3 linked regions of the Homo sapiens genome follow. The protein of the gene in region 1 purifies or fractionates together with the protein of each later gene. This does not show direct contact. Each region holds a gene or a part of one and is shown in the gene's direction. Other genes may lie near its edges.

Region 1 (3,500 bases):
AATCACTTGAACCTGGAAGGTGGAGGTTGCAGGAAGCTGAGATCCTGCTACTCCACTCTAGCCTGGGCAACAGAGCAAGACTCAGTCTCAAAAAACAAACAAAAAAAGAAGTAAATGAATGGAAATCAGAAAATAGGATACACAGCCTTTTTTTTTTTTTTTTTTTTTTTTTTTTTTACCCCACAATGTTTTTATTTCCCTATAGTACTGAGATCATGTTTAAGCCACAAACCTTTCCTCTGGAAGATAAGAAACTATGCACTTACTTTGAACAGCTCATCTTTAGAAAAACTTGCACAACTTACAAATCCTTAAGATTCAGAAAAGAGACAGCCTGAAAAGTAACATATTCAGACTTTTAATGATAGCTTCTCTTGCCCTTTATCGTCTAACATTCTGGACCATGATGATGGGTGATGCACACTGATTCTGATGTCTTAAGTTTGGACTTTGGGAGTCAATTTGGATCAGACATCCTGCCTGAAAAGCTGTGTTGCTCTCCAATTAGTGCCGGCAATTCTGGTTGGCCTTTAAAAGCTTAACATTCTTGGATTCACAGAAAGGTGTGATTTAAAAAATAGAGTAAGAATTCATTCAGGTGCTGAAACACAGTTTGCTATGACTAAGGTGGTGTCTTGGGCGTTTTCTGACTGTTTCCTGGAGGTTTTGTTTTTTTCTTTTTATACTTTGACCTATTTGTACATGATGTCCTGGAGTTTGAATGACTAATCTCCTGGGCCAGAGCACACTGTATTGGGAGGAAAGTGGTTGAGGTGTGTTCCCATTTTATAATGACTTTATCATTTACAATCCATTCTGTCTCTGATGTGGTGGGAAAGTGCCCTGAGGAACTTTTGCAAGGAATCTTACATGATACGTGATACCTACCAAATTTCTTCAGTTGAAACAGTGCTGTGAATGTTTTAAAGTGAGTCAAACTGGTGTTCAGCCCTCAGTCCTGCAGGTCACTCTGTCATGTCTTGTTGTTTTTCTGGATTGAGTTAAAAGTATGTAGTAGACCTGGGTAACTTATAATGAAGATTCTTGACCTTTATAGCAGGGCAGCCTTACAGAAACATAGCTCTTTCTGTCCTAAAAACCAGTTGGGATGAATTTCTCCAGTCTCTGCCAACTTCTTGTTTATTCTCATAATAAGATAAAAGGGGATTGCGAATGCCCTGTGCTATAGAATCCTCCAGTAACAGATAGAAAATTAATATTAAATAATCTTCATTCATTCATTTACCAGTTATGTATCCATCTGTTGTTATAGGTCATGAATATTAGATAATGACTAATTTTCTTTTCTTTTTTTTTTGAGACAGAGTCTTGCTCTGTGGCCCAGGCTGGAGGGCAGTGGCACGATCTCGGCTCACTGCAACCCCCGCTTCCCAGGTTCAAGCAATTCTCGTCCTCAGCCTCCTGAGTAGCTGGGAATACAGGCGCATGCCACCACGCCCAGCTAATTTTTGTATTTTTAGTAGAGACTAGGTTTCACAATGTCGGCCAGGATGGTCTCGATCTCCTGACCCTGTGATCTACCCACCTCGGCCTCCCAAAGTGCTGGGATTACAGGCGTGAGCCATCGCGCCTGGCCGACTAATTTTATTTTCTTAAGTCACACATTTATTCTGCTCATCAGATTTTGGATCCTCTGACCTCCACTCCCCCTCCCCTTACTGGGAGGCCTGGTGCTGCCTTGTGATTAGCTGAGGTTAGACATGGGGTTACCTGGAAATTGCTGCAGGCACCTGCTCTTTTCTCCTGTCACCCACAGTATGTTAATGTCCAGTAGTGGCATAGATTGGGCCGCCTGATTTCTGATGATGTATCTCTCTCATAAAGGAGCCAGTTCAGCAAGCAACATGCTGGCCCCGCATCATTTTAGCAGTCAAAGCAGTACTACCCCCAGAGTTGGCCCTGACGTTACCCTGGGAGGCAGGGATTTGGGCCTCAGAATCATCCGAACTGTCAGGCTTGATGATTATTTCTGTACGACTTCCAGCCTCTATTTGCCAGGTAGATTTTTATGGAGAGGGTAGTGATCTTCTGGCAGCATGCAGCGAGGGAGGTACAGATCTAAGAGAGCCTTCTCTGTATGTTCGACGGGAAGAGCCAGAGGGTCCGGCAGAGTGCGGTTTCACGGTTGCCCCGACATTCCCACGCTGTGTGCGGGCCATTTTTAAAATTAAGTTTAAAAAAATCAAATGATTTAAAGTAAACAGAAAAAGTATTTACATTTTGAAATTTCTATTTTAAAGAATTGGGAAGAAACACTTTTTTTTTTTTTTAAAGAAAAGCAAAAAGATTTGTAACATTTCTAGTATTTACACAGAGAGCGGTGCAAGTCTTTGAGTCCAGGTAGCTGTAGAAACCAGAACCAAGCTGAGTTTGTGATTTTCTAGGCCTGGAGTTTCTTGTAAGAGTCCACTCTGTGCCATGCCCTAAGGAAGAAAGAAAAGATGAAAGATGGGTCCTTGCCCTCAGGAAGTCATGGCCTGGTGAGGGAGAAGGACTTGTAAATGGAGAATTTCTGTGATAGAGAGAGATGGGACTTGTAGATGGAGAATTTCGGTGGTAGAGATAGATGGATTTTTGAATGGAGAATTTTCATGGTAGAGAGAGATGGATGATGTGTTCCAGGAGCACTTAGGAAGAATGTTTAGCCCATCTAGGCCAGGGGCTTCAATAAAGTTTACTCAGGGGTAGATCTTTTAAGAATGTGGATGAAGGGAAGGGACCCTTGGACTGAGGCTTGAAACCTTTCCCAAGGACTTTGCCATGGACATTTAACTCTTCTAGGCAGCACTTCAGGGAATTAATTCCACTGTTGATTTAGGGGAGTGAATGTTGATTGCTTCCCTCTCCGCCTTAATTAATGGAATGTATTCCATGACCTTGCTGTGTTTAAATTCTTGTCACTGTCAGCCGCCACCTTCATCCTACCTTCAGCAAACTGGAGAGATTGTGGAGAATTTGGAAAAACTGTTTCCCTTGAGAGTAGAGTAAAAGGAGAAGTTACTTTGTTAGAATTGGTACCATGTAAGCTTTCTTACAAATAATCTTAGCCAGGGTCTGGGTGTGGTGGCTCACACCTGTAATCCCAGCACTTTGGGAGGCCGAGGTGGGTAAATAGCTTGAGTTCAGGAGTTCGAGACCAGTCTAGGTAGGCAACATGGCAAAACCCTGTCTCTAGAGGAGGAAAAAAAAATTAGTTGGGCATAGTGGTGTATGCATTGTAGTCCCAGCTACTCAAGAGGCTGAGGTGGGAGGATCACTTGAGCCCTGGAGGTAGAAGTTGCAGCAAGCCAAGATCACTGCACTCCAGCCCGAGTTATACAGCAAGACCTCATCTCAAAAAAATAAAAAATAGGCTGGGTGCAGTGGCTCATGCCTGTAATCTCAACACTTTGGGAGGCCAAGGCAGGCGGATCATGAGGTCAGGAGTTCAAGACCAGCCTGGTCAACATAGTGAAAACCTGTCTGTACTAAAAATACAA
Region 2 (2,349 bases), on another chromosome or scaffold:
TGCTGGCTCTGCTCGGCTGGGTGGGAGGCGACCCCAATGAGGATGCTGCAGAGATGGGCCCTGACTCCCAGCCAGCCCGGCCAGGCCTTCTGCTACGCCACAACCTGTCTGGGCGCTACGAGTCTCGCTGGGCCAGCGTGCGTGTGGGGCCTGGGCCAGCCCTGATGCTGCGAGGGATGGAGGGCGCCGTGCTGCCCGTGTGGAGTGCGCACGGGGAAGGTCAGGCCCAAGGAAGGCTGGGGGAGGGCCCGAGGGTTGGGGGCAAGGGTGGGCATGAAGGACCTTGGCTCTCACTTCCCTCCTCCTTCCATCCCAGGTTACGTAGCATTTTCTTCTCCGGAACTCCAAGCTCAGATTGAGGCCAGGGGCTTGGCTCCACTGCACTGGGCTGATGATGACGGGAACCCCACAGAGCAGTACCCTCTGAATCCCAATGGGTCCCCAGGGGGCGTGGCTGGCATCTGCTCCTGTGATGGCCGCCACCTGGCTGTCATGCCTCACCCTGAGCGGGCCGTTAGGCCTTGGCAGTGGGCATGGCGACCCCCTCCATTTGATACTCTGACCACCTCCCCCTGGCTCCAGCTCTTTATCAATGCCCGAAACTGGACCCTGGAAGGGAGCTGCTGACTGGCCACAGGGGCTCACCTGGGCCCCATGGCTTTTCACCTAAGTGGGTCCTGCCCCCTCCCCCATGACCTTCAGGAGCACCCCATATTATTTCCAAAAATATCTTGGACAGACAAGGACCAAAATGCCAAAATCTCAGCGGACTCGATAATCTGCCTGCTGATGTTCCTTCTGTGGCTGTGTCTATTTTCAGTTCTGCTCTAACATGGCATGCCCTTTCTCAGCCCAGGAAACAGCATGTGGTTCAGAGAAAAGAGCGACAAGGAAAAGTTAGGACTCCTGAGGTCCGAACAGGGGCTTCTGTTGCCCACTTCACAACACCCAGTGATCACCGGTGTGCAATTGCCTCCTTGGCTCTGAGGGATGTTTTGCGCTCCCTTTTCTCATCATTGGGGTTAGCGGGTGCAGACAAATTCAGCAATAGTATGCAGATCAGCCCCTCACCACCTCATTGTTCTCATCTGGAACTGAAACTTTCTGGATTTCTCTTGAAGTGCTACACTGCACTGAATGTAAGGAATTGTTGCTTGTGGAAGTTTCTCAGCGTTTCTGGCTGTCTTAGGGCTGGCCTCAGAACCCAGCATTCCTGTTATTTGCTTCTAAATTAGCAGCTCTCTTTTTTTTTTTTTTTTTGAGGCAGTCTCACTCTGTCACCCAGGCTGGAGTACAATGGCGTGATCTCGGCCCACTGCAACCTCTGCCTCCTGGGTTCAAGCAATTTTCCTGCCTCAGCCTCCCGAGTAGCTGGGAGTACAGGCACACACCACCACACCCAGCTAATTTTTGTATTTTTAGTAGAGATAGGGTTTCACCATGTCTCCCAGGCTGGTCTCAAACTCCTAACCTCAAGTGATTCGCCTGCCTCGGCCTCCCAAAGTGCTGGGATTACAGGTGGGAGCCACTACAGCTGGCCCAGCAGCTCTGTTTCTGATAGAGGTGGTTGGGGCTCTCATCCCTAGATCCTAACCCTTTAGTATGCTGGAATTCTACTCTTCACTTACTGCATTGACTGTTGTTGATTAGTTATTATTGCAAAGCACTGTCACCGGCCTCAGGGAGTTTATGTGTAATAGAATTAAAAATAATAGCTGTGTATAACACTTAGCTCAAGCCACGCATGTGTGAGGCATTTGGTATGTATCTGAATTAATTCTCACTAAAATTCAGCAAAGGACTTGATAGCCCCTCCCCGCCTTTTCAATAAAGGATGAATGAAGGTTGACTGCATTGCCTGGGGTCCACAGATGGTGAGGGGGGCTGGGCGCACCCATACTACATCTGCTTCCCGCCATCCTGCAGTCTTACTTCCTGGAGGCAGTGTGTTGAGACTTTGTGCTGGCAGCTGTCTGTTGCTTCCTTTGCTCACAGGACTGTGGATAGAGGTCCCTTCCTCATGACTGTTCTGTTGTACACCTCAAGTCAGTTGGCTCCCTAGAATGTTCAACATCTTGATAAAAGGAGTTTGCCTGAGAATGGAGACTATAATCCCAGATCCCTGAGGGCTAGGAGAGCTGGGTGGGGGCGCTGAGCACTTCTGTGTGCTCCTGGTAGAGTAGCCACCCTGAGAAAAAACTGATAATAATGAAACAATGTTAAATGATGGCTATGGGGAAAACAACTATTTCAGAGATTTTTCTCATTGCTTTGCAAAGCGACCTACCCTGAGCAGTATGGGACTCCTCCGGATCATTTTTGACATTTGAATGTTCTTTCCTGACCCTT
Region 3 (3,500 bases), on another chromosome or scaffold:
TCACATATTTGATTAATACACTGGGGCAGAAAAAGGCTTTAAATTATATATGCTCTCCAATTGTGTGATTACTGTATAAAAAGTAATTGATTATAATTTTATCTAATCCTGCCAATTTCTACTTTACAAACAGTATTCCCCAAATAAAAAAGAAAACTCTAGGAGTGAAGAAGAGTTTGTTAGAAATAAGGATGCAATTTGATAGCTTTATGGCCAGACACCCAAGAATTGCCTAAATGTTCTCCCTACTACCAATTCCAACTCAATTTTTGATCCTTCTTTGTCTTCACCAGAACATTCCAAAGGAGCTACTTGCATAATAGCAAGTGAAAATCAAAGTGAGACTCTATTAGTTGGGCCACTGCCTCCAGTGCACTAACACGAAGCTGTCGTGATAGCTAGGTAGATGGGTTGGTTCGGAACGTGGCTTAGAGTCATTTTTCTCTTAGGCTCAAATTTGTCAAATTTGACAAGTGAGCAGGCTATCCTCTCCTGTATACTTGATAATGATTATTACAGTGTACTCTGTGCCACCTTGGTGGCCCTTAGAGTTGTATGTTTAAGCTGCAGATAATTTGCAGAGCATTGGCTGAAACACATAAAATCACATGCTTGGATGCCACAGCAATGTCAAATCGCTATATGTTCTTAAGCACTTGTGGCTCAGTCACAAACACAACTTGCAGACTAGCACCTGTTTGTGGATCACACTTTGAGTAGTACTGAGTTTAAGTCACTAATATTTTAAACCTTAATAACTTACACCTATCCCTGCAGAGGGGAATAGGTTCATTATATAAGATTAATCAGAAACCATCCCATATACATGGAGGACAATAGTGAAAATAGTCAAATTTTAATTTCAAATTACAAATGTAAGCCCTCTAGGACTGCTGGACATGCAGTGGATGCTGACTTTTCTCTATAATTTTTTTTAATAGGTGGTATTAAAGATGGTCACTGAGATTAAGAAGATTCCTGGTATTTCTCGAATTATGTATGACTTAACATCAAAGCCCCCAGGAACTACTGAGTGGGAGTAATAAACTTCTTGTTCTATTAAAGTACCGTGTGCAGTTTAAATTGATTAGAAATCATTCCCATTATTGACATGCAGTACTGTGAAAAGAGTTACTGGAGCAGCTACATCACATCTGAGTTCTCCACAGCAAAAATCTACGGCTTAAGAGCTGAGTTGGGGATAACCAAAAGGGACTGAAGAGTTTGTACGGGTAAATAATCAAAGCACCATTGCCTACACTCAGACAGATTGATACTGCTTTTGCCTTTGCCTCACTTATTCTTTATGTATAAATTCACTGTTGATGTCTCTGTGAATATGTATGAAGGTGGGTGAATTTGGGGGTAATTATGGGCTTCTGTCTCCTTACCAGTTTCTAAGAACTGTTAGAAACGCCCATTATTTACCAGTGTTACTTACTACTTATATATACTTTTTGGAGAATCAGTTTTCTTATAAGTAATCTTATTTCTCCAAAGGGTGAAAAAGAGATGAACATATCAGATAAAGGTATAGGTGGGCTATTCCAGCCACTTTTGAAGGACACTGAGGGTATAAAATGTAAGCTACCATAAGATGGAAAAGCACCAGGAATTTGTTGATGTACTTTTGAATTTTATTTCACAGCCTTGGGAGGAAGAAACTATGAGTGGTCTCAGATGTCTATGAATGGTCTTAAAATGTTTTCAAACCATGTTCCACATAGATGCCATGTTATTCAATGTCAGCTTGTTTATTAGTAAGGAGCTTTATCCTCCTAGCCTTATATTACCAGCCCCCCACAGCCTTGCATAGAAAGTTTCTGTTATCTCCTTAGAAGAAACTGGCTCAATGACGTTTCTGGTGTAGTGCAGATAGAGGTCAAGAGGAGCATTTTCATCTCTTCTTTTGCTGGTCAGAGAAACGGTTCTGAGATCACAGAAGCTATGATGCATACCTACAGCTTACAAAAGGGAGAGGAAAAATGTTTATATCATCTAGTAAACAGTTGTAAAATGAGCTTTTAAATCTAATCTATAGACATATTATTCATTGCTCAGACACCTGTGAACAGTCTTGATACATGCAAGATGTTTGCCAAACTTTGTAATCCTTTCTACTAGCTATAAGAGAGGATTTAAGAACTGGTGTAGGACTTGTTGCCATCACCACCAGTTTCTAACAGATCTTTTATAACATTCACATAAGTACTGTAGACAGTAGTAGACTTAAACTCTCCGTTTCTCTCAGTATTTTAGCTAAGAATGTTACCATATTTTTCTCTTAACAATTCCATCTCAGGTTGCTGCTGCTTGTCTAGTTTAAAAGGTCAGATCTATTAATCAGGAATGAAATTTTATTTGGGATTCAGTGTTAGACAAACAACAAAATGATGCGTGGCAGAAGTCATCTTTTTATTCTGGCTGGTCCAGGGAACAAGAAAACTGCTGCTGGACCAGCAAGGGAAGAGTTTCTGTCTGTCTTAACAGAAATCTGTCCCCAAGACAAAGGGGTACTTGACTCCTACAAAACTTAAAGGGTACATTCTCTATCTGATGAGGAGGTACTCATTATGGCCTTCTGGAAAGAGGCTATGTTAGTGATCTGGTCTTTACAGATTTAGAGTCATGTTATTTGAAAGCTAGAATAGACAACCTATAAAATGCTTACCAACATGTGTCAGTACACGTTTATGTTTATATGAAAAAAAATTTCTAGCCACAGTGTCTTATGATTTTGTATTGAAGCAAACAGTAGGAATTTTGGAAAAATAGAGAGTAAGAATGTGTGTTCTATGGAACACTGCTCCACTGAGAAGGTCCATGTAAAAAGGATTAGGTGGTCATATAAGTTTGGGGAACATAAGCTCACTTGTCCTTTCCTGGAGATTCATGGTATATAATATTCAAAGCTCTGAGAAATTCTGAAGTTAAAAACAATTGTTAAATTCTGCTTAAATTAGTGTTTTCCTGATATTTGTTTTTTGAACACCTTTTATATAATCCCTTCTAATATATACTTAGTATATACTTAATATAATATTGGGAAAATTGTTACTCCAAAGCACATCTTGACATGACATAGTTTCTTAAAAATCCAAATTTTCTGGAACTCAGAAATTTCCTAATATTTAGCACACTGTCTTCTTTTGCACAGCACTTTTTGCTTTGTGCCATATAGCATTACTCTGTACCTTCACAGTATTTCATCTGAGCCACTGAGGAAAGTTAAAGGTTGCACTTCCATTTTACAGTTAAGAAAACAAGCTCACCTTAGGCATGGTTACTTAATTAATTTCAGAATTAAATTTCAGGTTTCCTTAGTCCAGATTGTCCTGATGTGTATTCTGACACCTAAAATTATATAAACATTTATGGGATGCTTATTTTACTAAGACTAGAATGGTGGCTACCTGGCTAATAACATTCATCATTGGTTATTCTGGGCATATCATGACTTTATTCCCGTTGCTTACCATCTACCTGGGACACATCTCTCT

What was found.
Region 2: the proteins of TNRC6B (region 1) and PFAS purify together in Homo sapiens (affinity purification with mass spectrometry, with the first as the bait; one large-scale study listed by BioGRID). This does not show direct contact.
Region 3: the proteins of TNRC6B (region 1) and GMPS purify together in Homo sapiens (affinity purification with mass spectrometry, with the first as the bait; one large-scale study listed by BioGRID). This does not show direct contact.

Annotation. Positions count from the first base shown.
Region 1 is NC_000022.11:40,257,925-40,261,424, forward strand, and holds part of TNRC6B (trinucleotide repeat-containing gene 6B protein), read left to right. Parts: intron 1-1,117; exon of another isoform or gene 1,118-2,444; intron 2,445-3,500.
Region 2 is NC_000017.11:8,268,638-8,270,986, forward strand, and holds the end of PFAS (phosphoribosylformylglycinamidine synthase), read left to right. Parts: coding exon 1-219; intron 220-316; coding exon 317-627; 3' UTR 628-1,849; downstream 1,850-2,349. UniProt on the Homo sapiens protein: Phosphoribosylformylglycinamidine synthase involved in the purines biosynthetic pathway. Catalyzes the ATP-dependent conversion of formylglycinamide ribonucleotide (FGAR) and glutamine to yield formylglycinamidine ribonucleotide (FGAM) and glutamate.
Region 3 is NC_000003.12:155,936,650-155,940,149, forward strand, and holds part of GMPS (GMP synthase [glutamine-hydrolyzing]), read left to right. Parts: intron 1-941; coding exon 942-1,043; 3' UTR 1,044-3,500. UniProt on the Homo sapiens protein: Catalyzes the conversion of xanthine monophosphate (XMP) to GMP in the presence of glutamine and ATP through an adenyl-XMP intermediate.